Linked DNA regions of Homo sapiens: all the other regions are linked to region 1. Evidence: fine-mapped expression QTL. A gene starts in region 1. Each other region holds a variant in brackets. All regions are shown on one strand. Distances are from middle to middle. Region 1 holds the start of PARP4 (poly(ADP-ribose) polymerase family member 4). Region 2 has its middle 28 kb from the start of LINC00566. Region 3 has its middle 67 kb from the start of LINC00566. Region 4 has its middle 78 kb from the start of LINC00566. Region 5 overlaps PARP4 (poly(ADP-ribose) polymerase family member 4). Region 6 overlaps LOC101927375 (ankyrin repeat domain-containing protein 26-like).

The links. PIP is the estimated chance that this variant, and not a neighbour inherited with it, causes the effect.
Region 2: its variant is the best candidate, but not a certain one, in a credible set for the expression of PARP4 in neutrophils (BLUEPRINT, PIP 0.61).
Region 3: its variant is the best candidate, but not a certain one, in a credible set for the expression of PARP4 in lung (TOPMed, PIP 0.65).
Region 4: its variant is the best candidate, but not a certain one, in a credible set for the expression of PARP4 in whole blood (INTERVAL, PIP 0.90).
Region 5: its variant is the best candidate, but not a certain one, in a credible set for the expression of PARP4 in monocytes after interferon gamma (Fairfax 2014, PIP 0.62).
Region 6: its variant is the best candidate, but not a certain one, in a credible set for the expression of PARP4 in whole blood (INTERVAL, PIP 0.84).

The regions. Positions count from the first base shown.
Region 1 is chr13:24,509,617-24,514,664 of GRCh38, forward strand. PARP4 (poly(ADP-ribose) polymerase family member 4) reads right to left here and starts at 3,162. Exons shown (of 34, transcript NM_006437.4): 1 at 3,090-3,162. The region is part of intron 1 of LOC105370117 (a long non-coding RNA gene); the gene reads left to right. RefSeq lists a silencer at 3,160-3,319.
Region 2 is chr13:24,356,900-24,361,947 of GRCh38, forward strand. No RefSeq gene overlaps it. Among named protein-coding and RNA genes, the nearest start is that of LINC00566, 28 kb to the left of the region's middle. The variant G/A (reference allele first, on the strand shown) is at 2,720.
Region 3 is chr13:24,395,874-24,400,921 of GRCh38, forward strand. It overlaps the pseudogene CYCSP33. Among named protein-coding and RNA genes, the nearest start is that of LINC00566, 67 kb to the left of the region's middle. The variant A/G (reference allele first, on the strand shown) is at 2,967.
Region 4 is chr13:24,406,589-24,411,636 of GRCh38, forward strand. No RefSeq gene overlaps it. Among named protein-coding and RNA genes, the nearest start is that of LINC00566, 78 kb to the left of the region's middle. The variant A/G (reference allele first, on the strand shown) is at 1,846.
Region 5 is chr13:24,422,036-24,427,083 of GRCh38, forward strand. It overlaps PARP4 (poly(ADP-ribose) polymerase family member 4), which reads right to left. Exons shown (of 34, transcript NM_006437.4): 33 at 4,431-4,563. Among named protein-coding and RNA genes, the nearest start is that of PARP4, 88 kb to the right of the region's middle. The variant C/T (reference allele first, on the strand shown) is at 2,848.
Region 6 is chr13:24,557,926-24,562,973 of GRCh38, forward strand. It overlaps LOC101927375 (ankyrin repeat domain-containing protein 26-like), which reads left to right. Exons shown (of 11, transcript XM_011535334.3): 4 at 238-331; 5 at 4,360-4,388; 6 at 4,483-4,555. Among named protein-coding and RNA genes, the nearest start is that of PARP4, 48 kb to the left of the region's middle. The variant G/A (reference allele first, on the strand shown) is at 2,544.

The DNA.
Region 1 (5,048 bases):
TAGTTACATACATATTATGGGTCAATAAAGTTATTTTTAAAAAAGCACCTGATCCCTCCATCCAGAAATAACCCCACTGTTGATTTTTATTTGTTTGTTTTTTGAGCCAGTCTCGCTCTGTCACCCAGGCTGGAGTGCAGTGGCATGATCTCAGCTCACTGCAACCTTCTGCCTCCCAGGTTCAAGTAATTCTCGTGCCTCAGCCTCCAAGTAGCTGGGACTACAGGCACGCACCACCACGCCCAGCTAATTTTTGTATTTTTAGTAGAGACGGGGTTTCACCATGTTGGCCAGGCTGGTCTCGAATTCCTGAGCTCAAGTGATCTGCCCACCTCTGCCTCCCAAAGTGCTAGGATTACAGGCATGAGCCACCACACCTAGCCCCCACTGTTGATATTTTAATTTTTTTGGTGTTATTATTTCTTGTATCATTGTATTTTCTAAATTATTAATATTCTATATTTAATGTTATAGCCAGTTGCTCTTTACTTTTTAAATAGGACTTTCACTTTCACAGCTTATTTAGCTTTTAGTGATATCCTCCCCATGTCACTAAATATTCTTTGAAGGTGTTTTTAGTGGTTACATAAGCTTTGCGTTTATTTCATCCTTCCCCAAGTCATCAGATACTTGGTTACTTAAAAGTGTTCACTATTGGCCGGGCGCGGTGGCTCACACCTGTAATCCCAGCATTTTGGGAGGCCGAGGCGGGCGGATCACGAGGTCAGGAGATCGAGGCCATCCCGGCTAAAACGGTGAAACCCCGTCTCTACTAAAAATACAAAAAATTAGCCGGGCGTAGTGGCGGGTGCCTGTAGTCCCAGCTACTTGGGAGGCTGAGGCAGGGGAATGGCGTGAACCCGGGAGGCGGAGCTTGCAGTGAGCGGAGATCCCGCCACTGCACTCCAGCCTGGGCGACAGAGCGAGACTCCGTCTCAAAAAAAAAAAAAAAAAAGTGTTCACTATTAGAAATACACTTTAATTAAAATGCTTGTACATATATTTTTTTGCCACATCTCTGTCATAGTTTCCCTAGAGTTGATGGCCAGAAATGGAATTACTGAATCAAGGAGTATAAACATTTTTTAGCCTTTTAAAAATTGTGGTACAGTTTTTAAAACTGTGTGTACAGTTCAGTGGCATTAAGTACATACACATAGTTGTGAAATCAAAGTATAAACATTTTATTTTATTTGAGACAGGGTCTGGCTCTGTCTCCCAAGCTGGAGTGCAGTGGTGTGGTCACTGTCACAGCTCACTGCAACCTCGACCTCCCTCCCAGCAATCCTTTCACCCGGCCTACTTAGTAGCTGGGACCACAGGCCTGCACCACCATGCCCAGCTAATTTTGGTAGAGACAGGGTTCTTACTATGTTGCCAAGGCTGGTCACAAACTCCTGGGCTCAAGCCATCCTCCTGCCTCAGCCTCCCAGAGTGCTGGGGTTACAGGTGTGAGCTGCCACGCCCGGCCCAGAGTAAAAACATTTTAAACATAAATCTGCGGTCTGTTCTTAGCACCTGCGGCTGCGTGGGAGGTATGGAAAGGCGCACTTTGGGTTTCGTGAAATCTCAAGTCAGGTCTTGACTTCTCTCTTTCCACAGATTCATCTCTAGTCTCTGTAAAATGCCAGCCCTCTTCTGGGTTAACAGCGCCTAACCGACATGCGCCACTAGTTCTTCCTTGTTTCAAAGTGTTCTCTAAACACAGAGTTAGTTCATGTTTTCATCAGCGCTGATTACGTACATATGAGATGTGGCGGACACTGGGCTAGGGGCTGGTTATTCTCTAAGGCAAATCTGCACAGTCACTCCAGCCTGTCCCCCTTCCCAGCTTCTTCCCCAAATAACATTCACAGAGTGTCTTCCACCCAAAGACAGCAGGGAACAGCCCCGATTCCTAAGAAACCCTCAGCGCGCCTCCTCACAAACTCTTGGCTGCTCCATAAACCATTGGTGTAGGTGGAATCAAGTGGCTTCCTGCTTCACAGGTCTTCGTCTTTACCACTGGCATTTCCTCCTCTCGGAAAACCCTGAGGAGTCCCTTTCTGGGCAGTCTTGATTCTACAGCCTCCGCCTTCCGAAGTGTGTGAGTCAGCACACGCTAAGATCACTTTTGATATACAGTGGGCATTCAATAAAAGCTTGCTTACTAAAAACTCTCACGTATCCATTAAAGCCCAGGATTACAGAAAAGCCTTCTGACACTATTTGCATTTTGGACTCAAATGGCATCAGTAATGCACCTCCCTAATGGGTTTATTAAACCCTTAAACAACAAAGGTACTACTTTTATTTCACTCCTACATGATATACAGTAGCTCTACGCACACAAACAAGACCTAATGTTTACTTAATAAATGATAAAGTCAGATGTAATGAGTCTGCAACACGCACATCTCAGAGCGAACTTCCCCTTTATCATAGCACTATGCTTGGATATTGTCATATAATTGTTGTCATCCAGCAGTCCAGAATTGAAAGTGCTTGGGCTTGAATATTTAGCAGCGCCTTAGTTTTCTAGAACCTGTGATCTACCAACTCGATCCCTGGGTGAACCATTCGGCCCTCCTAGCAGGAATTACTTAACTGAGTTAGAGGTTTTCAACTTTGGACCTCAACAAACACATTGTTTCTATCACGGTGTTCCCAATGACTCACGAGGTCAGATAGTACTTCCTGATTACTCACCAAACCACCTTACTTTTTGCACAATTCGAAACCTAACTTTAGGAAAGAAGGCCGTTTGGCATACTGGAAACAAGAAACAACGCGTGCTACTGCGAACCGCACCGCACGGGGTGCGGAGACTTGGTGTGACTGTCGGCTCCGGTGGGCGCCCCCCACCGCACCCGGTTTCTCGTCACCAGGGCTGCGCCGCGGGGCAGAGCGGAACGACCGCAATATCCCTCCCCGAGGGCGCTGGCTGCACTAGCTAGTCCACTCCCGAGCCTAGCAGCGCCGTCAGGCCCACAGCGCCAACGCCGCGCAGGGCAAGGGTGCAGCCACTGGCGGGAAAGTAGTACGCGGGCCACTTCCTGGCTAGGACTACAGGGACCTTTGCAGCCCCCCACCCCGCAGCGCCCACGCACCTGCCTAGAGGATCCAGCTAGCTCCGGACGCTCCCCGATTCCGCGCTCCTTGCTCGCGGTACTTCCGTAATCTAGGCTCTCCCTGCCCCCGGGGCTGGGCGGGCGCCACTGCGCCGGAACCCCGCCCCGCACCAGGCGGGCGCAGCGTCCCAAGCAGGGACGATAGCCGGAACGCGCCCGGAATCGGGTCCGCCAGGTGGGGAGCGGGTCCCCGGCCTCTGGCGGGGTTTCTCTTCCAAGATCAGCCGGAGGGTTCAGGGCTTTCAGTTTCATATTTCAGGAGGGATTTTGTCAATGAGGATTAATACAAAGCTCGGCTTTGAGAGAGGTGGGTGGATGGTGCTGTCCTTTAACTGAGAAATGGAAGGGATTCACAAGGCCGGGAAAGAAGAAAATTTCGGGAAAGTTCGTGGAAACAGGAGAGTGAGATAATAAATTTACTTTAAGCCTTCCTGCGTTTGAAATTCGTGACAGTGTAACTAGTTGGAAATATATTTATCTGCCATTCAAGAGAGGCAGGGGGCTGGAGATACAGATCTGAGATTCACTGAAATGGGAATAAAGCAATGGGGAAGATTCAGATTTTTAGGATACTGAATAAAATGAGAATAGAAAGGATAGAGTAGAGAATACAGTGGAAAGGGTATGGGGTTGAATCCTGACTCCACAATTTATTACCAAGGGGGCTGGGGACAAGGTAATTTACCAAGTTTCATCATTACAACCTACTCTATAGGGTTGTCTAAGAAACAACAAGAGATTCTGGGGGAGGAGAGAGACTGATTCCTAGAGTTACCACATCGTAATGCTCAAAATGTCCAATCTTCAACAAAAAATTATGAGGCATGCAAAAAAAAAGGCGAAAAAATGGCCAATTCAAAGGAAAAAAGAAATGAACAGAAATTGTCCCTGAGCTGAGGAAGCACAGACATAGGAATTATTAGACAAATACTTCAAATAAACTGTCTTAAACATGGACAAAAAGTGAAAGGAAACATAGAAAAATAACTGAAAGAAACAACCAGGAGAACAAAGTCTCAATAAATAGAGAATATGCAATAGAAGATGTGCAAATGGTCAACAAGCATGAAAAAAAGCCCAGCATAACTAATTATCAGAAAAGTGCAAATTAAAACTGCAATGAGATACCATCTTACACCAGTCAGAATGGTTATTATTAAAAAGTCAAGGAACAACAGATGCTGGCAAGGCTTTATTGAAAAGGAAATGCTTATACACTGTCAGTGGGAATGTAAATTAGTTGAACCACTGTGGAAACCAGTTTGAAGATTTCTCAAAGTGCTGAAAACAGAACTGCTATTCAACCCAGCTATCCCATTACTGGGTACATATTCAAAACAAGAGAACTCATTCTACCAAAAAGACACATGCACTAGTATGTTCGTCACAGCACGCTTCACAATAGGAAAGACATGGAATGAACTTAGGTGCTCATCGACAATGGACTGGATAAAGAAAATGTGGTACATTTGCACCATGGAATACTACGAAGCCATAAAAAGAATGAATGGAATCATGTCCTTCACAGCAACGTGACTGCAACTGGAGGCCATTGTCGTAAGTGAATTAATGAAGGAACAGAAAACCAAATACCACATGTTCTAATTTGTAAGTGGGAGCTAAACACTGGGTACTCATGGATATAAAGATGGCAACAATAGACACTGGGGACAACTAGACAGGGAGGGAGGGGGAGGGGCAAGGGTTGAAAAACTATTGGGTACTATGCTCAGTCCCCGGGTGAGGGGCTCAGTCATACCCCAAACCTCAGCACCACGAATTATATGTAGGTAACAAGCCTGCACATGTACCCTCTGAATCTAAAATAAAAGTTGAAATTATTTAAAAAACAAATAAGGAATATTAATAAAGAGATAGAAATTATAAAAGGAACCAAACACATTTTGGAACTGAAAAGAACCAAAAAGAAATTGTGTA
Region 2 (5,048 bases), 150 kb before region 1:
TGATCACACACATTCATCACACACCACACACATATTCATACACTCATCACATGCACACCACACACACTCATCACACACATTCATCACACACACAACACACACGTTCATCACACACTCATCACACACATGCCACACAATGCTCATCAAACATGCCACACACATGCTTATCACACATGCTCATCACACATGCCACACACGCTCATCATGCACATTAATCACACTCACACCGTGCACACTCATCACACACTCATCGCAAACACATTCATCACACATGATCATCACACACGTCACACATACCACACATACGCTCATCATACACACTCATCACAAGCAACCCACACACACTCATCACACACACACATGCACACCTGCCAGACACCACACGCACCACACCATATATACACTCAACCATCACAGGCACACACACACCACACACACAAACTCATCACACATACACCTGCACACACGGCCACACACACTGGGCCATCACACAGACACCATGCACCACACACACTCATCACACACACCACACACACAAATCGGGCCATCACACAGACACCATGCACCGCACACACTCATCACACACACCACACACACAAATCCAATCACCTCACACACCCATCCACCCCCATCACAGCCCCCACCTCTGCTGAATGGAGCCCCACCATCCTTCAGTGGCCAGCTGGCACCTCGTCCTTGACGTGCCCCATCACACTTCCCTCTCCCGCCCACGAGGACCTCGGTAATGTCGCCCCTGAAACTGCTGCGGAACCTGGAGCCCACTGTGATGCAGAATTGGAATCCCAGCTCAGCCCCCTGCACTCCCGATTGCCCAGAAGAATGCCTTATTCCTGAGAGCCCCTTGGTTCTTCTCCCTCTCAGGTTAGGTGAGAAGGTCAATCTGGCCCTGCGGGTTATGCTGCCGGTTACATGAGAACCTCGTCGGCATGAAGAGGCCAGGCAGGTCCTCCGACAGTGCCACAGCCCCAGGCTTGTGCAGCTAAATCACGGAGGCCTTCCAGGCCCTGAACAGGAACCGGACGGGGCCCGAATGACACTGCTGGGGGGCCGCTCTCTGGATGCCATTGTGGCCGGGTACCGGGATGGTCGGCTGCTTGATTCCATGACTTAAAGCTAGATTTGGCCTTTTAAGCCTCTGTCTCAGTGCCCTTGGGTCCCTTCTGCGGCTCACCTACCTGTCTCTCGGTCTCTGGGGTGGGCTGGCAGGGTTCATTCTGGGACCTAGGTGGTGTGGCAGCAGTGGCTGTCATGGTGCAGAGCCGGCTTCTCGGAGTGCCTGGTCTGGGGATCCCCAGGGAAGGCACTGAAGCTGTCTCCTTGGCTCCCGGGCCTGTGAGGCCCAGCCAGCTCCACCCCTGCCCCACCCACCCCAAGCCCCACAGGGGGCCCCTACCTGGCAGCTCAAGTCCAGCCCCCTTTCCCAGGGCCCTGGGGGGCCCCATCCCCACCTCGTGCCAATCAAGGGTGATGTGTGGGCTGCTGGGCCTTTGGTCCCTGTTAGGGTCGCTCAGAGAAGCCTGGGTGGACATGAAAGTTCGAGGCTTCCAAGCCAAGACTCAGGAATAAGCAGGGACCTTGCCTGTAGCGTCCCCAACTCCTGAGCAGCTCTCCAGCTTCTGGCTCCCCTGGCTCTTTTTGGCTGAGGGGGCTCCTCTGTGTAACTCGGCCAGGCCCTCTTTCCAGGCTTTTATTCTTCCTGCAGTCAGAGAAGGGGACAGAGGGGGCCTCTGGTGCCAGCTCTGAGGCCTCTCTTGAAGCCCAGCCTGAAGGTGTCTGTCCCCACCTGCTGCCACCCCCACCCTGAGATGGGGGCTTAGAGCCTTTGCCCTGGTGGCTTGCCCTGCTGGGACTCCTTCCTCTAATCTCAGAATGACCGACCCCTCGCCTCCCTCACGTCGCCGTTTCAGAGCTACTTTCTCACCCAGACCCCTGACCGGTGCTCCTAGTTTCCCCACCCACCTGTGCTACGTGTTCCCAGGTGTCTGCCACCTGCAGCAGGCTGCCCAGTCATTTCTCCCTCCCGGTGTGCTTTCACCATCGAGCCCCTTCTGGCCCCATCCTCCAGCTCCCGCCGTGTTGCTCAGAGCAGCTCACGGTGCACGGCGACTCCGGGGAATGGGGTTCCCACAGCTCCTCGGCTTCCATAAAGGCCACGGCGGGCTCTGCAGGGCAAGCTGGCCTCTGCGATCACTGCGCAGTGACCCCTCACAAGTAGCATTTTTGCACTTGGGAATCTACACGTTTTTTCATTTTAAAAGGAGTGTGTCCCTGCTGTTTGAGAAATATGCCCAGGAACACAGCCCTTCTCAGAGAGTCTGGATACTTAAAAGGAAAGCTCTTGATTACATAGGGGAGTTCACCGTGGTGCAGTGTTGGCTGAGGCATGGCCAGCACAGGGCAGGAGCTGGGGGATTGGCACCTCTGAGGACAGGAAGACACTCATGGTAGCAGCAACACACTGGTTGCACCTGCAGAGGCCACAGGCTCAGCAGAGCTGCCCTGGCGATGCTGGTGATTTCGGGAGCTCTCTCTAGAGGGCCGGGAGATACTGCAGCCTCAGAAGTGGCCGCCAGGAGTGCCTCTGGCAGATTGAGATGGTGATTTAGCTGGTGATCATGCCGCCGTCCGTGTTCACTCTCCATCAGAAGCCACACCTCACTCTCTTAGAGCGAGGGAGAGACACACTCAAGCTGGGGGT[G/A]AATGGCATCTGCAGAGCCAGATCCAGGGGCCAGGAGGATCGGGGACTGCCCGGGAGGAGTCTCCATGCCACGTGAGTCAATCAGGGAACCCTAACTGGAAAGCAGTAATACAAAGTAATTGAGTTTAATACATAATTTAGATGGTTACTCGTTAAGCTAATGCCTCCCGCTTAGGTGTGGGGAGAAAATTATTTATCTCATAGACGGGGAAGATTTCATTTGTTTTTATAATGGAATGCTTACCAATTGACTTTAGTAAGAGCAGTTTGTTAAATCAGATTTTGAATTGGTGCATAGATTTGAAGTTCATAAGTTAGTTTTTGATGTGATATACTTAGCGCCTCCCTTCTTCCCTTAAAGTGGCTGGATTTATTCTCCCATGAGGCTGTGCGCTCATTGTTGTCCTGCATTATGGAAATTACATCGGTTCTCCGTGGTGTCTTCATGAGAGGCAATTTTACTCCTGACTTCTACCGTTTTTTTTTTTAATTTAAGAAGGGACATTAAAGAGACTCTGCTTGCTGCTTTGCGGGGACTTTTTCCTCTTGAAAACAGTCCCAGGGCTGCAAACAAATGCTTTGGTTAAATACCAGAAAGGAACTTACTAACAACTCCTTACTTGGGTCCAACCAACTGTCATTCATTAACCTGTTTGATTTTCTCAGCAATCCTGTGAAGTCAAGCGGCCGCTAGGAACCCAGCTCGTGTGTGTGCACGTTGAGGCCCCGGGCCTGGTCACCACCCATAGCTGGGTGCTGGCCTGGCAGTGGGGACCAGGCCTTTCATACCCACAAAGCAGGGCTGCCTGGGCCTGGACCCAAGCTCATCTGGCCAGCCCAGTGATGGCGACCCTGACTCAGTTTCCCTATCAACAGAACAGGGATAAGATACTGAGTACCTTGGAGAGGGTTTGAGGATGGAAGGAGGCGATGCCTGCCCAGGGCATGGAACAGAGCCAGTACCAAGAGCTTAGCTCTGGGCATTGCAACTACCCCAGTGGAATGGCTCCCGGACCCCTCCCCGAACCAGCTCCCCCTACTCCAACAGCCATACCGCCAGGCAGACAGCATCTGACCCAGAGGGCCCCACCCTCACGCCTGCTTCTCCCCAACTGTGGGGCCTCAGGTGGGCATCCCTGTGCTCCAGGTCTCAGCGTCCTCAGCTATGAAACAGGCTGCTGAGGCCTCCCTAGGGCACCCAGCATCCCTGCTGAGGGCAGAGGGGATCTTGCTGACAGGCTGCAGGAGACCACCCCAGGAGCCAGGGGTTTGCCCAGTCTCCTCTGGGGCAGCCGTCCAGGCAGAACCTCAGCCCCCAGATAGCAGGATCAGGGCGAAAACTAAGTCATCAGGACCACAGGCCTGCAGGCCATCCCTGCCCGGTTCATTCAGCAGCCTCAGTGACAGGTGCTGGGGAAGGCCCTGGTGCAGGCAGCCTTTATTTCAACTTTCCCTGGACCCCCAGCCCCTCCAGCTCCAGTCTCTGTGTTCCCATAGAGACCCCCAGGGCACAGCAGGGAGTGCTTTCCACAGCCCCAGCTGCACCGCACTTCCAGCTTGCCTCTGGAAACAGCCACAAATAGCAGGGCAGCACCAGAAGGCAGGCCTTTAAGGAGAATGAACACAGGTCTCCACCCTCAGACAAACACAGGTCTCCACCCTCAGATGAACACAGGGCTCTACCCTCAGACAAACACAGGTCTCCACCTTCAGACGAACACAGGCCTCCACCCTCAGATGAGCACAGGTCTCCACCCTCAGCACAGGTCTCCACCCTCAGGTGAACACAGTCCTCCACCCTCACATGAACACAGGCCTCCACCCTCAGAAACAGAAGCTCCACAGAGCCCCCAAGGGACCCTGGGGCACCCTGGAAGCATCCACTGCATACTGGAGCCACCTCAAGAGCCATGGGGGCTGGGAGCCCCGGGGTTCTGGGAAAGCTCTCCCCAGTGGAACATTGGAATAAATGTGCGTAGCTGTGAAAACTCCCTTTACATAAAATCAAAAAGAGAGCCTGTGTAAAACATTTCTAAATACCCAGGACCTTAAGACACAAGCCCTTCCTGCTGGGCACCTCCACAGCCGCTTCCTGCCCTTCTTGCCTCCAAGCCGGTGCAGCTCCTTCTAAAACACCTTGGTGCACCCAGGGTGCCCAGAGGAAGGCGGGAGCCCACGGGAGGCACGTGGATGGGAGTGAGCCCCTCCACCAGCTTGCTGGGAGGCAGATGGTCAGGGAAGGGGTGCCCCACCACTCTACTGCAGAAGAATCTGTTACCATGGAAGCATCCGGGGCAACGAGGAGGTGACTTTACACCCCAGGAAGTGG
Region 3 (5,048 bases), 110 kb before region 1:
GAAACACAATAATTCCCCATTAACAGACTCTAAATTGTAAGAGTATATCAAATGGCTAAGAAGAAATTCAAAATAATGATCTTAAGGAAACTCTATGAGATACGAGAGAATACAGATAGACAAATCAATGAAATTAGAAAAACAATTTATGATCTTATGGGAAATTCAACAGGATATATATGTCATTAAAAACCAGACAGACATCTTGGAGCTGAAGAATTTAAGGAATAAAATAAAAAACACAATGAAGAGTCCAGGTGCAGTGGCTCATACCTGTTATCCCAGCACTTTGGGAGGCCAAGGCAGTGGATCACTTGAGGCCAGGAGTTCAAGAAAAGCCTGATGAAAATGGCAAAGTCCTGTCTCTAAAAAATACAAAAATTAGTTGGGTTTGGTGGCGCATGCCTGTAATCCAAGCTACTTGGGAGTCTGAGACACAAGAATTGCTTGAACCCAGGTGGTGGAGGTTGCAGTGAGCCAAGACTGTGCCACTGCACTCCAGCTTGGGTGGCAGAGTGAGACCCTGTCTCAAAAAAAAAAAAAAAAAAAAAGAAAAATACAATCAAGAGATTTAAAAACAGACTTGGGAGATATGACCAAAATCTAGGAAGCTCAAAGGTTCTCAAATAGATTCAACCCAAAAAGGTCTTCTCTGAGGTGCATGATAGTCAAACTGTCAAAAGTCAAAAAGAGGGAATATTCGTCAGGTGAGGTGGCTCACATCTGTAATCCCAGCACTTCAGGAGGCTGAGGCGGGTGGATCACTTGAGGCCAGGAGTTCAAGATGAGCATGGCCAACATGAAGAAACCACATTTCTACTAACAATACAAAAAAATTAGTTGGGTGTGGTGGCATGCACCTGTAGTTCCAGCTACTTGGGAGGCTGAATCACGAGAATTGCTTAAACCCAGGAGGTGGAGGTTGCAGTGAGCCAAGATCACACCACTGCACTACAGCCTGGTGACAGATTGAGACTGTATCCAAAAAAAAAAAAAAAGGAAATATTAAAAACAGCAAGAAAAAAGCATCAAGTCACATATAAGGGAAACTCCATTTGATTAACGGTGGATTTCCCAGTGGAAACTTTACAGGTCAGTAGACAATGAGATGGGATGATATATTCAAAGTACTGAAAGGAAAAAAAAAAAAACTGTCAACCAAGAATACTATACCCAGCAGAGCTATCCCTAGAAATGAGGGAGAAATAACGTATTTCCCAGACAAGCAAAAACTGAAGGAATTCATTACCACTAGACTGGCCTTACAAGGACTGCTTAAGGTGGTTCTACTTCTGGAAGCAAGAGGATGATTACTATTGTGAAAACATACAAAAGTATAAAACTCACTGCTAGCGCAGATATACACATGAGAAAGAGAAAGGAATCAAACTTTATCACTACAGAAAATGACCAAACCACAAAGATTAAAAAAAAATAGAAGAAGAAAAGAACAAAGGATATATAAAACAACCAGAAAAAAAATGAACAAAATGACAGGATAAAGCCTCATCTATTAATAGTAACCTTGAATATAATGTAAACAGATCAAATTCCCAATTAAAAGATATAGAGTTGGCTGCCAAGATTAAAAAAAAAAAAAAGTCCCACTGTATACTGCCTACAAGAAACTCACTTCAACTGTAAAGGTTCATACAGACTGAAAGTGAAGGGATAGAAGAAAATATTCCTGGCAAACAGAAATCAAAAGAGAACAGAGGTAGCCATACTTACATCAGATAAAACAGACTTTAAGTCAAACTGTATGAAGAGACAAAGAAGGTCATTTTGTAATGATAGAGGGATCAACTTAGCAATAAGATATAATAATTGTAAATATATATGTACCTAACACTAGAGCACTCAGATAAACAAAGCAAATATTATTAGGTCTAAAGGGAAAGATAGACTCCAATGCAGCAACAGTTGGGGCCTTTAACACCCCACTCTTACCACTGGACAGATCATCTAGACAGAAAATCAACAAAGAAATAACAGAGTTAAGCTTACTGATAGGAATAAGTTCTGGTGTTCTATAGTGCTGTAGGGTGACTACAGTTAACAATAATTTATTGTATATTTTTACATAGAGAGGATGTTGAGTGTTCCCAACACAAAGAATGATAAATATTTGAGGTGACAGATATGCTGACTATCCTGATTTGATCATTACACATTGTATGCAAGTATTGAGATATCCCTGTGTACCTCATAAATATGAACAAGTATTATGTGTCAGTTAAAAATATTTTTAAAGAATGAAGGAAACCGATTTTTTAAATGAAAGGAAAGAAAATTACCTGACTTGGCTGAATGGCCCCATGTGGTCTCTCATTCTCCAGTAGGCTACTTCAGGCCTGTTCACGTGACGGCAGAGGCAAGAGTCCCAGGAGCGGCAACAAAACAATGCAAATCCTCTTCCGGCCCAGGCTCAAAATTATATATTACTTCTACCCCATTTTATTGGACAATGCAAATTACACTACCAGTCTGGATTCAAGGAGTAGAAAATAAACTCCAACTCTTGATGGAAGGAACTATAAAGAATTGTGGCGGTTTTTGATAGTCTACCATAGGGAGGAAAGATGGGGATGCTATAACCCAAAATGTGTATTCTTAGGTTGAGATCCTAAATTATAGTCAGGGCATATGGCTTTAGGCTCTGTGGATGACTAAATTAATTTCAAACATATAATGCTGTTTACTGTGAAGTGCCAGCTGAAAGGATCATTGTTTAATTTTATGTAATTTACAATACTTATTATACCTCAATAAAAATGTAATTATTGAGGGCTGGCATCAGTTGCCGAGAGGTGGAAGGAGTACCTCTCTGCAGTGTGTTAACTCAGTTCCGGACAGGACAGGGCTGCAAGTTCAGCTACTTCCCAGATAATGTCCTGGATCCCCTGCCTGAGTCATCATCCCATGACTGGAGAACGTGGACAGATTATTTTATCAAGAAACTGGTG[A/G]TAAACGAGGGACTATAGGAATTAAGAACTAAGGCTAGAAAAGAAATGTTTAGAGTGATGCAAGATGGCCAATTAGAAGCAGCTGCAGTCTGCCGCGCTCACAAAGAGGAATGAAAAGGGGCGAGGGAATTCAGCACCTTCAACTGAGACAACCAGGTTCTCACATTAGGACTGACTAGATGAACAGGTCGACCAATGGAGAATGAAGACAAGCAGGCAGAGGGTGCGATGGCCCAGCCAGGGGTGGCGTGGAGCCAAAGGAACCCCCACTCCCAGCCAAGGGAAGCAGTGAGTGAGTGTGCAGTCCTGCCCGGGAAACCGTGCTTCTCCCATGGATCTTTGCAAGCCATGGATCAGGAGATTCCTTGTGAGCCCATGCCACCAGGGCCGTGGGTCTGATACACAGACCTGTATGGAGTCTGGGCACATCAGCTCAGGCACACACAGAAACCCAGGAGTTTTACACACTCTAGCCTCCGGGATCTTCAGCACAGTAGGAAATCTGTCCGTACGCATCTCTGGGAAGGGGGCCGAATCCAGGAAGCCAGGCAGCGTCATTCTGCAGGCCCCATTTCCATAGCACCTCACAAGTTAAGACCCACTGACTTGGAATCCTAGCCTGCCAACAGCAGCGGGTTGGAATCCACCTCAGATGGGTCTGAGTTCCCGGGGAGGTGGGGAGAGGCAGCCGGCACCACTGTGGTTCATAGACTCAGCCACTCCAGCCTGCCAGCTATGGAGAATACAGACAGTCTGGACAAGGAAGAGTTCCCCACAACACAGCACAGCTGGCTTGCCAGATCATGACCAGACTGCTTCTTTAAGCAGGACCCCCATCCATTCCTCCTCACTGGGCAGGAATCCCTGTGGGGGCTTTAACCACTCCAGCAACGGTTCTATGGACAGAGCTTTGATCTCTCCCTGAAATGGAGCTCCTGGCGGGAGGGGCAGCTGCCATCTCTGCAGTTTGGTCAACTCAGCCACTCCAACCTGCTGGCTTTGGAGAATACAGGTGGTCCGGAGGAGGAAGGATCCCCCACAATGCAGCACACCTGCTCTACCCCAAAGCAGCCAGACTGCTTCTTTGGATGGGTCCCTGATCCCATGCCTCCTGACAGGGTGAGAATGCCCAACAGGGGTCTCCAGCCACCTCCTGCAGGTATGTGTGGGCTGGCTACAGGTCAGTATCCCCCTGGGATGGAGCTTCCAAAGGAAGGAGCTGGCTGCCATCTTTGCTGTTTTTCAGCCTTCACTGGTAATACCTCATTCAGAGTCTATGAGGAACTTAAATTTACAAGAAAAAAACAACCCCATTAAAAAGTGGGCAAAGGATCTGAACAACACTTCCCAAAAGAGACATGCATGCAGTCAACAAAAATATGAAAAAAAAGCTCAACATCACTGATCATTAAAGAAATGCAAACAAAATCACAATGAGATACCATCTCATGCCAGTCAGAATGACTATTATTAAAAAGCCAAAAAACAACAGATGCTGGGAACATTGTGGAGAAAAAGGAATGCTTTTACACTGTTGGTGGGTGTGTAAATTAGTTCAACCCATGTGGAAGACAGTGTGGCAATTCCTCAAAGACTTAGAGGCAGAAATACCATCAGACCCAGCAATCCCATTATGGGGTATATACCCAAAGGAATATAAATCATTGTCTTATAAAAATACATGCATGCACACGTATGTTCATTGCAACAGTATTCACAATAGCAAAGACATGGAATCAACCTAAATGCCAGTCAATGATAGATTGGATAAAGAAAATGTGGAACATAGAGCAGGACGTGTGGCTTCTGAGCGAGAACATTTGTAGTGCCAGTGACGAAAGAGAGAATTTGAGAGATATTGAGATGTTGAGAAAGAGAGATGTTGAGAAAGGCAAGAAGATTTTTGTTCAGAAGTGTGCCCAGTGCCACACCATGGAAAATGGAGGCAAGCACAAGACTGGGCCTAATCTCCATGGTCTCTTCAGGTGGAAGATAGGTCAGGCCATTGGATTATCTTACATAGACACCGATAAGAACAAAGGCATCACCTGGGGAGAGGATACACTGATGAAGTATTTTGAG
Region 4 (5,048 bases), 100 kb before region 1:
AAGTGAAATTACCTAGTTAAAGAGTATGAATATTTTTAGTGTTCTTAATATATATTGCCAAATCCAAGAGCAACTGTATTCTTGTATCAACAATAAATCAAAGTTTTAAATTTCATGCCTTATTTTGCCGACATTGGATTTTCTCATTAAAAGAGAAAGGGCTAATTTCATGGGTGCAAATGGCACGTTATTGTTGTTTTGAATTCGTTATTGGTGACACTGAATATTTATCTGTGTAGGTTGTTGATCAGTTAGATTTTCTCTTTTACGGATTGTTTATGTCCTTGGCCCATTTATCTATAAGGTGAGTGAGTAATATTTAAGTTGTTGTTAATGAATTATTAATTTATCATACTCGGCATAGTCCCCATTTAGTCAATTTTTCTGAAAAATCGTTTCCCCTGTTATTCATTATAGCATTTTAAAGCAGAAATTTCAGATTTTTATGAAGTCAGACCTAAGCCTATTGATCTTCCATTGATTCAACACTTTTAGTTCTTCCTCAGCCAAAGAATTGATTAAAATTTGCTTAAATTTCTCATAGATATTTATAGTTTTTATATGTGATTTCTAAGCCCGTATGGATTTTATGTAAGAAATTCCATGAATTCTGAAGTATATAAAACTGTTTATCCTTGCCTCCCCCACTATGCAGATTCAGAGTGTTCATCTTTTTGACTTATTATTTCTTCCTAACAGAGATAGCCAGTTTAATAAATGGATGATTTTGATATGTTCATTTTATTTTTCTCAATATTAAGCCGGTAAACATTGCTCTGAGGGTACCATACTAATCAGTTTTAAAATTTCGTGTCATTTTTGTTGTTGCACAGACATATATACATATGTGTGTGTATGTTTCAGAAAGATGTATTTACTGAAAGTTGGATTCATATAGTGGTATTAACTGTATTTTAAATAATAAATACTATTTGTTTTTCATTTTAAGGGTTATACGTACATATATATATATATACACACACACTTATAGGTACATGTATATCTTCATTTAAAAAAATAAGAGAACCGATGAGCCAAAAAAGTCTCCATATTGTTACCAGTTATTTAAAATTTGTTATGTTTATCTTTTTCTATCACGCATACACACAATCATACTATATACTTTTTGCATTTATTTGTTTACATAGTGCTTACGTAGACTGTAATATGCAGATCACTCTCTAAAGTTGTATCCATTCAAAATTAAATTTAAATAAGAACCAATATGAATTAGATTTAAACAAGAACCACATTAACTGTGAATTAATGATTTAGAACAAATTTACTTAAAGTTAGTTAACCAGCTAATTTACTTATGTGATAGCTTTAAACAGTGTGTATTTACAATAGAGACTCAACTGTGTAGCCAAACACACATTGTGGACTATTTGAAAAATCACAGTGGATTAGAACTTGAAATTTGCATACCCTGTTATTCCCCGAATCTCCCCTAGAAGATGCTAGTGAGAGACAAATTAATGAAAGTAATAACCATTTTAGGTTCCCCCTAGGAAATAGCTTGTGTTGGTGTCATGTAAATAGGTAAGATATGTGTTTTTCTTTTTTAGGAAGTTGTGCACTTTCTAGACGAGAAGCATCCAAACCACTATCAAGTCTACAATCTATGCAGTGTGTACGTTACTCTATATTTTGCTACTGTAGATAGAAAACAGATTACTGCATGTAAGAAGATGATTTTGTTTTTTAGATTGCATTTAATCATAAGTATTTGGTGGTGGCAAGGAATGAATTTAAAAATCCCTATCTTGGACTGGCCCCGTTTACTAGAAAGAGTTAGCCCAGCAGCACAAAGTACCGTATGAAGGATGTGGCTTTGGCAGTACC[A/G]GTGATGCTGGGGTGGAAGCAAACCATTTTAGGGAAGATCTGTTCTACCCATATTAGGTTTAGGAAAATCTTTCTGTTTTTCCTGCCAGATTGTGTTATGAGGACATAGACAATTTAACAAATGAGTCTTCTGACCCATCAGCAGTGGCATGTGATGAGAGCAGGGCTCTAGATGGGAAAAAGGCAAAAAACTCTGTAGAAAATAGGTTGTTACCCAGCTTAATACTCTGTCTCTCTTGATTTTTACCTCTACCTGTATACTCAGTAGACATTTTCAGGGGGCAATGATTTTGGTCAGCTACATTTGCCTCTTGTGTGGTTTCTAACTACCCTGCAATAATATAATGAATAGTCTGCTAGAAAGTTAAAAATTATACCTATTAAACAAAAATAAGTTGAGGTTAGATTACATGAGATGGATAAACCACTACCATCTTTATGTTTTTGAGACCTTGCATTTACTTTAGAGAGCAGGAGCAACTTGGAAAGCTCTTTTTGAAGATAGATGAGGAATTCTAATAAGATATGTTAACTTATTCGTAACTTCATCATTTATCATGTTATTCCCTGTAGAGATAGGACATACATATTATTTATTTTAGGTGAAAGAGCTTATGATCCTAAGCACTTCCATAATAGCGTTGGTAGACTCATGATTGATGATCATAATGTCCCCACTCTACAGTAAGTTTTATGCTAAGCTGGCTATCAGAAGAGGGCTAAATATATTGGGCTTGATTTTTTGAAGATATTTTAACTAAAAATCTTAAACTTGAAATCAGTGAGATGGTGGTTTTCACCAAGGAAGTAAATGAGTGGATGGCTCAAGATCTTGAAAACATCGTAGCGATTCACTGTAAAGGAGGCAAAGGTAATAACATTTTCCTTTTCATTTCTCCCTTTCTAAATACATGTAAATATAAAGTACAAGAACAAGATACGTATTGCTATTAATACGTATTAATAACTGTTATCATTTTAAAATATTAGCTCCAAGGTGGAAAGAAGGGAAGGAGAAAGGAAAGAGGAGAGGAGGAAGGGTGGGAGATAGGGAGAGGATAAGGAAGGGAAGAAAGTAGGAAAAAAGAACTAAGGAAGGTTGAGCATATTTTCCCTTGTTTTCCTAGTATTTGGCTTTCTTTATTTTTGGTTTGCCAGTTTATATCTCTCAAAATACAAACAGTCTTTAATTTTAGAATGTCAGAGTACTTTTATTTTATTTAAGGCTGATTTTTTATTTTAAAATTAACACATAAAAATATATTTATGGTGTACAATATGATGTTTTGATATACATAAACACTGTGAAATGGCTATATCAAGCTAATTAACGTATGCATTACTCCACATACTTTTTTGTGGTTAGAACATTTAAAATCTACTGTCTCAGCAATTTTCAAGTATACATTAACTATGGTCACTATGTTGTACAATAAATTTCCTGAACTTATTCTTCCTGTCTAACTGAAATTTTGCATCCTTTAACCAACATCTCAGCCTGAGCGCAGTGGCTCACACCTGTAATCCCAGCACTTTGGGAGGCAGAGGCAGGTGGATCACCTGAGGTCAGTAGTTTGAGACCAGCCTGGCCAGCATGGTGAGGTCCTATCTCTACTAAAAATACAAAAAATTAGCCGGGTGTGGTGGCATGCACCTGTTATCCCAGCTACTCAGGAGGCTGAGGCAGAGGAATCGCTTGAACCTGGGAGGCAGAGGTTGCAGTGAGCCGAGATCGCACCATTGCACTCCAGCCTGAGCAACAAGAACAAAACTCCATCTAAAAAAATAATAAAGTAAAAACCAACATCTCCACAGTCCCCCCAGCCCCCGGTAACCACCATTCTACTCTCTGCTTCTATGAATATGATTTTTTAAAATTCCACAAATAAGTGAGTCATGCAGTATTTTTCTTTCTATGCCTGGCTTATTTCACTTAGCATAATATTCTCCAGGTTCATCCATATTATCACGTGACAGGATATCCTCTAAGGCTGAATTGTATGCCTTTATTTATAGATAGCACATATTCTTTATCCATTCATCCACTGATGACATTTAGATTGACTCCATAGCTTGGGTATTATGAATAATGCTGCAGTGAACACGGGAGTGCAGATTTCATTTCCTTTGGATATATACCCAGAAGTGGACTCTCCAAATCATATGGTAGTTCTATTTTTGGTTTTTTGAGGAATCTCAGTGCTGTTTTCCACAATAACTACTAATTTACATTCACACCAACAGTGTACAAGGGGGATCCCTTTTCTCTTCATCCTCACCAACTCTTCTCTTGTCTTTTTGTTAGTGACCATCCTAACAGGTGTGAGGATATCTCTTTGTGGTTTTAATTTGCTTTTCCCTGATGATTAACGAAGTTTAGCATTTTCTCATATACCTCTTGGCCATTTGTATGTCTTCTGTTGGGAAATATCTTTTCAGGTTCTTGGCCCATTTTCCAGAGAAGTAACTTGTTCTCTTGCTATTGTGTTGTTTGATTTCCTTTTTAAAAATAATCTATTAACCTATTGTTGAATGTATGCTTTGTAGATATTTTCTCCCATTCTGTAGGTTGTCTCCTCACTCTATAAATGTTTCCTTTGCTGTGCAAAAGTGTTTTAGTTTGATAAAGTATCATTTGTCTGCTTTTTCTTTTGTTGCCTATGCTTTTCAGTCATATCCAAAAATACCTTGGCCCAGACCAATGTCAAGAAGATTTTCACCTATGTTTTCTTCTAGTAGTTTTCCTATTTCAGCTTTCACAGTTAAGCGTTTACTTTGAGTAGACTTTTGTATATTGGGTGAGATAGGTTGCAATTTCATTCTTCCGCAAGTGGATATTCAGTTTCCCCAGTACTGTTTATTGAAGAGACTGTCCTTTCCCCATCTTGGATTCTTGGCACCTTTGTACTCAGCTGAGTATAAATGCATGGACTTATTCTGGGCTTTCTATTCTGTTCCATTGGTCTAGATGTCTGTTTTTGTTCCAGTAATATTTAAGGTTGTTCTTAAACTTTGTGAGAACCTTTTAGATTAAGTGAGCCAACAGAGATGCTATTTCAAAAATTATACTGGAATTTTTGTAGTGTAATGATACAAAGAAGTTGACATTGGTGGGGTTAAAATGGGGGAAAAAGCCATTGTAAATCCAACCAATTTAAGTTCAATTAGGTTTTCTCTCATTCAGGTTTAGGCTTTAAATAATC
Region 5 (5,048 bases), 88 kb before region 1:
TCTCTCCCTGTTCCTGAATTTTCCCTGTGAACTGGGAAAGGGCCGTCAGTATAGCGTGGTGGTTAAGAGCTGGGTTTGAGTCCTGACTCTGCAATCACATGATATTGGCCATGTGATACTGTGTGGCTTTCATTCAACACTGGGAATCTCAGTTTCCTCAATTATGAGAATAACCTGAGGTCCTATGGGTTTGTGGTGGAAATCAACAAAGCTTACAAACTTAACATGCTTACTAGTCCCTAGTGCACAGTAGGCACTCAATAAATGTTCGCTGAATGTCATGATACTAAATCATGATGAACATACTAAATAAGAAGCATGCCCAAAGTGGTTAAAAGACCAATGTTTCCTAGTAAATATTCATCTACTGATAGTTACTAACTGCTGAAAACAACAAAACTGGCTTTGAATATTTTTACTGATTGGCCTCTACACTTTTTGGTTCACATTCCGCTAGCAAGAAAATCTTGTGCCTACACCCCCATATAATGTGCTCTTGCATCAATGTTATGTACATCCTGAAATAGAAAATATAGAACAAAGTTTCAAATATGCAATAAACAGGAAATAAAAAATATTTAATTTTTTTTTTTAGATGGAGTCTCACTGTGTCGCCAGGCTGGAGTGCAGGGACACGATCTCGGTTCACTGCAACCTCTGACTCCTTGGTTCAAGTGATTCTCCTGCCTCAGCCTCCTGTGTAGCTGGGATTACAGACACGTGCCACCACACCCAGCTAGTTTTTGTATTTTTAGTAGAGACGGGGTTTCACCATCTTGGCCAGGATGGTCTCAATCTCTTAACCTTGTGATCTGTCCGCCTCAACCTCCCAAAGTGCTGGAATTACAGCTGTGAGTCACCGTGTCTGGCCTAAAATTGTTTGTCTTATGTACTCAAGTGCCAACAAACCATTTTGCTAGCACAGTAGCAGTAATGGAGTAAGAGCAATATGCTGGAATATACTTGATCAATTTTGAAAATCTTTACTTTATGATATTACAGTTCAAAAGCAGGTTCAAAGTTTATACTTGTTTTAACAGCTATAATATTAATAATTGGCAATGATCTAAATAGAATAAATGCGTCTTTGGATGTGCCTATTAAGTCAATACTAATTTTTTAGTCCCACCTCCTAGCTGTTCAAAGTGTTTTTTCTTTGATATTTATTTAATTAATCCTCTTGGCAAGTGGCACTGGTTTATTTTAAAATAAAATACAAAAAATAGGCTAGTGTAGTGGCTCACTCCTGTAATCCCAGAACTTTGAGAGGCCAATGCAGGCAGATCACTTGAGGCCAGAGTTCGAGACCAGCCTGGCCAACATGGCGAAACCTCATCTCTACCACAAATATAAAAATTAGCTGTGCACACCTCTAATTCCAGCTACTCAGGAGGCTGAGGCACGAGAATTGCTTGAAACTGGGAGGTGGAGGTTGCAGTGAGCCGAGATCGTGCCACTGCACGCCAGCCTGGGTGACAGAACGAGATCTGGCCTCAAAAAATAAATAAATAAATAAAAACAAAACAAAAAAAAAGAAAACTCCCAAAATAGAAAAACAAAATAAATTCTCATCTTTCTTGGCAAACTAATGAGAAGGTATTGCTTTTTAAAAAATGGAAGTATAAATTACATATAGTAAATTATGATTTTCTTTTTTTTTCAGACAGGGTCTCGCTTTGTTGCCCAGGCTGGAGTGCAGTGGCACGATCACAACTCACTGCAGCCTCAACCTCCTGGGCTCAAGCAATCCCCCCGACCTCAGCTTCCTGAGTAGTCACACACTACCACACTCGGGTAATTTTAAATTTTTTTGTGGAGACAGGGTCTTGCTATGTGGTCAAGGCTGGTCTTGAACTCCTGGATGCAATCCTCCTGCCTTGGCCTCCCAAAGTGCTGGGATTACAGGTGTGAGCCACCGTGCCCAGCAATGCCTGGGTAATTACAAAAAGTTTTTTGTAGAGATGGCAGTCTCATTGGTTACCTAGGCTGGTCTTAAACTTCTGGGCTTGATCTTGGTGGGCTCAAGTGACCCTCCCGTCTCAGCCTCCTAAAGTGCTTGGATTATAGGCATGAGCCAATTTGCCTAGCCCAGAACTTCCTGAACACCTGTTTTGTGTTTGAGAACTTTTTCTTAATCATGACACTTAAAAAATAATTATCAATATTTCTTTAATATCATAAAATATCCAGGTAGTGTTTAATTTTTCCTATCTCATTTTTTTAAATGCAGTGGGTTTTGTTTGTATCAGGACCTAAACAAGGTCTACCCTTGCTTTTGGTTGATATGTCTCTAAAGGTTTATTTACAGGTTCTGCTCCTCAACCTTTTTTTTCTATTGCCATTTATTTTTCTCTTGCCATTTATTTCCCCACATTCCAGACTTCGCTGACTGCATTTCCATGGTGTCAAGTAACATGTTCCTCTATTCTCTGATCTAATTCAAGTTTAGAAATCAAGGGGTTTTGTTTAACTTCTTTGATTTTATACATATTAGTTTCTAACAATATTAATATCTACCTTCCAAAATAACAAATCAAAAGTATTATTAACACCATGACTACTCCCAGTGAGATTTCTTTGTAATATTTTTTAATCCTTAGGTACTATCCCACTAGAGAGATATAGTCAAATTATGTACTTTTTTTTTTTTTTTTGAGACGGAGTCTCACTCTGTCACCCAGGCTGGAGTGCAGTGGCACGATCTTGACTCACTGCAAGCTCTGCCTCCCAGGTTCACGCCATTCTCCTGCCTCAGCCTCCCCAGTACCTGGGACTACAGGCACCCGCCATCACACCTGGCGAATTTTTTTTTTTTTTTGTATTTTTTTTAGTAGAGACAGGGTTTCA[C/T]CATGTTAGCCAAGATGGTCTCGATCTCCCAACCTCGTGATCTGCCCACCTCGGCCTCCCAAAGTGCTGGGATTACAGGCGTGAGCCACCGCGCCCGGCCAGTACTATGTTTTAAATTCACCTTAAATTAATTCCCAGGATGGGCACAGTGGTTCATGTCTGTAATCCCAGCACTTCAGGAGGCTGACGCGGGAGGATTGCTTGAGTTCAGGAGTTCCAGACCTGCCTGGGTAACATGGCAAAGCCCCTTCTTTACAAAAATACCAAAATTAGCAGGGCGTGGTGGTGCACACCTGTAGTCCCAGTTACTCAGGAGGCTGAGGTGGGAGGATGGCTTGAGCCCAGGAGGCGGAGGTTGCAGTGAGCTGAGATTGCACCACTGCACTCCAGCCTGGGCGATAGAGCCAGACTTTGTCTCAATAAATAAATAAATAAATATCAATCTTATGCATTATTATGTAAAATATTTACACAGTTCCAAAGTCAAAACTGCAAAACAAAGCACACTAGGAGAAACCTAGCTTCTATCTTTGTCCCCTCTATCAAATCCCCGTAGCAATAATATTATTAGTTTGATTAGTTTTCCCCTTATCTTGCCTTTAAAAGAACATAAGCCAATTACATGTGTATGTATATGTGTATATGTGTATGCATGTGTGCATGTGTGTGTGTGTGTGTGTGTGTGTGTATATCTATATCTATATCTATATCTATATCTATATCTATATATCTCAGAGGGATCCTACTCTGGTCTTGACCCTCTTGCCATGGGGTGGGGGGTCTGTAGGGACAAGAGAATATGCCCACCCCAGAGCCCATATCCTCCTTTTTAGACCCTGCAACTCCAGCATCCCTGACCACATGGCCCTGAGTCCACTTCCAGGGTCTTCCCTGGTCTGTCATCCTGAGTTTGAACAGTGTTGCCATCTCACTGGTGCTACAAGGTGGCTGGTGTGAGGGGGCACTGGCATGGGGTCTGGATGGCATTTTGATGGGTGGGGTGGGGTATTCACGTTTGCAGGCAAACCCTCTTAGGGTGCTGGGGGTCAACCAAGGGCCGAATTTGAACCTGGCCTTCCAGGTGGTTATGAAGTTGTATTTGCCAAGGGAGGAGATTAGAACACATTTAATCTAATAGTTTGCTAGTTTGATTTATAACCTTTAAACACTTGTTATAAACTACAAAGTTATAAACTTTAAATACTTGTATTGTATTCTTGTCCCAGGCCCTGCCATTGTTGGGAACAGGGCTGGGCCCAACAGTCACATTGTGGGTCTTCTGGAGGCACCCAGGATCAGCAGACTGCAGTGAAGAGTACCACATCCAGAGCCCAGAAGCGCCAGCCTCCAGCGGGAGCTGCACTGAAACTCTTTGAGCCCATTTCCTGTGCAGCCCAAGGCACAAATACATCAGCCCTGCCCGCCACAGGAGACTATGGGCAAGCTGTCACCTGCAAACAAATTCTCTTGCTACATACTTATAGTGTACACATGTAAGATAATTCCCTATAGCTGTTTCTAAGGTTTATTAAATAAATAGTTGAAAATATAAATAAGTTGCATAATACTATAGTTAAAGCCACCTGGAAATAGAAGCGTCATCCATTTTCATCAGTGATTTGAACACTATTCCCTCTTTTTCCAACCTGGTGCGAATAAACTGTAGTACCAGCATTGTGGCAATTAGGTCCAGGAGACATTCTCTTCCTTTTACACCTAAAAGGAAAAAAACTCCGTTAAGTCTGTTGGAAACTCTGCATCTCAAACTGTGCCTGTTTATAAAATTCTCATTAAAGAATTACAATACGCCATCTGGCTAACACAATGAAACTCCATCTCTGCTAAAAAAAAAAATACAAAAAATTAGCCGGGGGTGGCAGGCACCTGTAGTCCCAGCTACTCGGGAGGCTGAGGCAGGAGAACGGCGTGAACCCGGGAGGCGGAGCTTGCAGTGAGCCGAGATCACTCCACTGCACTCCAGCCTGGGCGACAGAGTGAGACTCTGTCTCAAAAAAAAAAAAAAAAAAAAAAAAAAGAATTATAATACGGTTAAATCACAGTACATGAGCAGATCGTGAAACTCTAATACTCTTCAAGGTCCTTAAATGGTTTGCTGTTTAAATAAAAAATGAGGACAGTTAGACCCGTGTGCCTATGATATTATCCTGATCATTGTCAGGAAACTGAACTGTATCCAGAGT
Region 6 (5,048 bases), 48 kb after region 1:
TCCTTTGGCTTTCTATGTTCAGTTTACAGAGTCAATAGCCATATGGAGATAAAATATTTGCTTGATCTGGAGAACATATATGAGTTTCTCTGTTGAAATATTTTGGTTTTCAATACATGCTTTCCTTACTTCTAGGTCTCATTGCTTTTAAATCAGGAAATTCAGAACATGTTTAGGAAATATTGAGAAATTCATTGTTTTTTCACTGAAACTCATTATTCATTATAATTTCAACAGACTACCTTTGAGAATGTTCCACAGAAATATGATAGTCACTTAACTGGAGCTGATGATGGTCAAAGAGGAAAAATTACAATAAAGGAACAAGAAGGTAAGAACTGTATTTTATTTAAAAATTTGACAGAATGTTTAAAAACATGAGCTCTGTTATGTTCTAGTAGCCAAGGAAAATAAGGTATTAAGTGCATAGTCAAAAAAAGAGAAGTGAAATAGTGATATGTTGTATATTTTGTAAGGCATTAGCAACCAATTTAATTGAGAGTGCCACTAAAGGAGCTGAATCATTAGTTCCAATTCAAGATACTGTAAGACCTGAGGAAAGTCAGAAAATAAGGAAGAAGAAAAGAGTAAATGAAGGAATGAAGAGTGAAAAGGCGGAGAGTACAGGGAGTAAATGAGGGAAAAAGATATATGCAATGAAGGGCGATAGAGTAAGATAATTATTTGAGGAGAATATAAAGTGAGCTTCCAGTACCGAAACTTGTCAGAGAATTCAAGCAAAATGTTGCCACTCTTGCTGTTTTCCTTACTTTTGGGAATGCATTAAGGATGGAGGTACCTGACCACACAGAGCTATGTTTCATCTGCGATAGAGGAATGTAATGTATGGTCAGCCGTGCATAAATTACATGTCTATAATTTAATGTGCTATAAAATCTTGTTACTTCATGGGACAGTATCTTAGGGGCCAAAAGAAGAGCATTGGAAAGAAGAGGGTAGGATTAATTATGGAAAGATCAAGGAAGCTATAGCCTGATAAAAAGTTCATTAGTAACTTTACGACTTGTAATGCAGCTTAGATTTGGAGGACGTGATAGGGTGGAGCTTGAGGCTGGATTCCAAAAGGGCAGGTTGAGGTTAACTAATGTGGGAGCACACTCAGTATAGACCAGAGCTTCCCAAATTTTAACAAATCAGCTGAGGACCTTGTTGGAAGTGCAGATTCTGATTCCACAAGTCTGCGATTCTGTATTTCTAATAAGATCTCAGGTGATGCCGACCCTTCTTGTCCTAGGACCACACTCTCAGTAGCAAGGGTATAGCTGTGCCTTCAGAGAAATCTCGAAGAAGAGCCCTTGGATCACCACTCAAGACATAACAGGATCAAGGGAAAGCATGATTTTCCCTTTATTTCTGAGCGTGTCTCTGGCCAGAGGGGAAGGAGAAAGAGATGAAGAAACAGAAATCATCATTGGAAGATACTACTGCTAAATGAAGAGAAGAGAAGTCATGGGAATAGTCCATCAAAAGGCGGCAGAAAGGTCAGAATCAGGACAACAGATCTAGAGACTACTTTTGCAAAGGAAGAGGGATTGTGAGTGGAGGAGGAGGGAGGAAAGAAAGAAGTTGGCTAGTTAATTTTGGAGTTGATAATAGGGAAACTTGAGAGCTGTCACTTCTAGTGACTGCAATATATTGGCACTCAAACAGAAGATTAGGTGATTGCTGTTCCAGGAATTACTGGAAGGAGGGAGTGCTAGAATGGGGGTAAACCACAGGAACTAATTTCTTCTCTCTGTAACTATCAGACATCAAAGATGCATGTTTTGTTGATATTGTGTCCGGAATTGGTGGGTTCTTGGTCTCACTGACTTCAAGAATGAAGCCACGGACCCTCGCGGTGAGTGCTACAGCTCTTAAGGTGGCATGTCTGGAGTTTGTTCCTTCTGATGTTCGGATGTGTTCGGAGTTTCTTCCTTCTGGTGGGTTCGTGGTCTCGCTGGCTCAGGAGTGAAGCTGCAGACCTTCGCGGTGAGTGTTACAGCTCTTAAGGCAGCACATCTGGAGTTGTTCGTTCCTCTCGGTGGGCTTGTGGTCTCACTGGTTTCAGGAGTGAAGCTGCAGGTCTTCGTGGTGAGTGTTACAGCTCATAAAAACAGTGTGGACCCAAAGAGTGAGCAGTAGCAAGATTTATTGCAGAGAGTGAAAGAACAAAGCCTCCACAGTGTGGAAGGGGACCCGAGCGGATTGCCACTGCTGGCTGGGGCAGCCTGCTTTTATTCTCTTATCTGGCCCCACCCACATCCTGCTGATTGGTAGAGCTGAGTGGCCTGTTTTGACAGGGCGCTGATTGGTGCTTTTACAATCCCTGAGCTAGATACAAAGGTTCTCCACCTCCCCATCAGATTAGTTAGATAGAGAGTTTCAACACACAGGTTCTCCAAGGCCCCACCAGAGCAGCTAGATACAGAGTGTCGATTGGTGCATTCACAAACCTTGAGCTAAACACAGGGTGCTGATTGGTGTGTTTACAAACCTTGAGCTAGATACAGAGTGCCGACTGGTGTATTTACAATCCCTGA[G/A]CTAGACGTAAAGATTCTCCAAGGCCCCACCAGAGTAGCTAGATACAGAGTGTCGATTGGTGCACTCACAAACCCTGAGCTAGACACAGAGTGCTGATTGGTGTGTTTACAATCCCTTAGCTGGATATAAAGACTCTCCATGTCCCCACCAGACTCAAGAGCCCAACTGGCTTCACCCAGTGGATCCTGCACCAGGGCTGCAGGTGGAGCTGCCTGCCAGTCCCGCGCCATGCGCTGGCACTCCTCAGCCCTTGGGCGGTGGATGGGACTGGGCGCCGTGGAGCAGGGGGCAGCATTCGTCGGAGAGGCTCGGGCTGCACAGGAACCCATGGAGGCGGGGGAAGGCCCAGGCAGGGCGGGCTGCAGTCCAGAGGCCTGCCCCGTGGGAAGGCAGCTAAGGCCCTGCGAGAAATCGAGCGCAGCGCCAGTGGGCTGGCACTGCTGGGGGACCCAGTACACCCTCCACAGCCGCTGGCCCAGGTGCTAAGCCCCTCACTGCCTGGGGCCGGTAGGGCCCGCCCGCCGCTCTGAGTGCGGGGCCCGCCAAGCCCACGCCCACCCAGAACTCCAGCTGGCCCACAAGCGCCGCGCGCAGCCCCGGTTCCTGCTAGCGCATCTCCCTCCACACCTCCCTGCAAGCTGAGGGAGCCGGCTCTGGCCTTGGCCAGCCCAGAAGGGGGCTCCCACAGTGCAGCGGCGGGCCGAAGGGCTCCTCAAGTGCCGCCAAAGTGGGAACCCAGGCAGAGGAGGCGCCGAGAGCAAGCGAGGGCTGTGACGACTGCCAGCACGCTGTCACCTCTCAATATGAGTTAATCAACTGAGGTAAAGTTAAATGTAGGAGCTTTGGCTGCTTTTTCTTTAAGGTAGCCGGTTTTTTAAATAGGATGCCTGTTTTGTAAAAGTTTATCATGGATGACATGATATGCCAACCCAAACTAAGTTTGGAAACAAAAAAAATTACAAAGTTTATTCCTCAAATACAAAAGGCATTACTTTACATAAATATTACACCCATTTTGGTATATAAAAGCTCAGTAGTAACTAATAATTGTGTAGCAATGCATTTTTTATTAATATTTCAATGTTGAAAGCTTCTTAGACATTATTTTTAGACATGTTTTATATACCTTCTTGCATGAGTGGATCAAAAAATTTAAGATGGCTAAACTACGGGATATAAGAAATGTAGGCCTATCAGTAAGCTCAAGTAGGTATGAAAAAAATGAAGATTTTTATGAACTATTTTGTGTAAGTGTGGATCCAAAGCAATTCACACTTGTGAAAGTGTGGATCCGAACACTTTCTCTGATGAGAAATGAATTAAACATTCAAATGAACTGTCATGACAACTGTGTGCTTCCTACATTCTAGGACCAATTGAAGGACATAGTAGGTACTTGTAGTAGAATGGTATAAATGATTCTGATGTGTCACATTAAAGACACACTATAGCATTCTACCATCAGCTTTGACATTTATCTGCCCAGGGTCATGATTTGCTCCTCTGGTTAAAGATCATTTTTCTCCTCCTCAGCATGTACACATGGTTGCGTGCATACTTTTCTCTCAGTTACAGATATTCGAATCAGAATCTTGCCTTTGAAATGTTAACTGCATGTTTTATTCAACCTATCTTCTTAGTTTTCTTCAGGATATTTCTGTCATGTTGTTGTCCTGACAAAAAAATGCACCCCTAAATCTAAACTCATTATTTTTAAAACGAAGCACTAAGATTCAGCTTGATACTAACTCTGAGTGTATGGTTAGATTTATCATATTTATATATAATTGATTATATGTCCCTTTTGCCTTCCAGATTCTCTTCAGCAATATCATCACTTGAAGGTAATAACTTTTCTATATTTATCTTTAATTATTAACCACATAGTATATGAAATATATATTACTTATTAATCATTTTGTCTTAAAACCCTTTCAGCCTAAGGTTGAAATGAAAGAGTGTGTTTCGAACCAGGCAGTCGGAATGAAAGATGTACAAGCATGCACATCAGGTAAAAATTTTTGCAATACAAATTTAACTCTGGAAAGAAGCACATTAAAAATAGTTTAAATGCTAGCAGTCTTCGTATTCCTGTCTTTTTTTTTTTCAAATTTGAGGGATAGATTTGATATATATAATGCAGATATTAGCATTGGTATCTATGTTTGAAAAACATTATATTTAGAAGCATAAGATAGATTTTAAAAATGTAAGCTCTAACTTAGATGTATCTTGTATTACGTATTGCTACGCTGAAGTTCTCAGTTGGGAATACCTATACTCATTCGGGTTTCACAGAAGTGAATTATGAGACTACAATTTTTTCCCGTGTTTGAAATGCTTGTTGGAATTCTGATCTTTACCTAGAGGAAAGCTTTCCTTGCTAACATGTCAATTTTGTATAAAGTTTAATTACTTCATCCTAGTGTTAGACTGATTATCTGAAGCAAATTGGATGTTTTGATTAGTGTGTGTGTGTGTGTGTGTGTGTGTGTGTGTGCAGG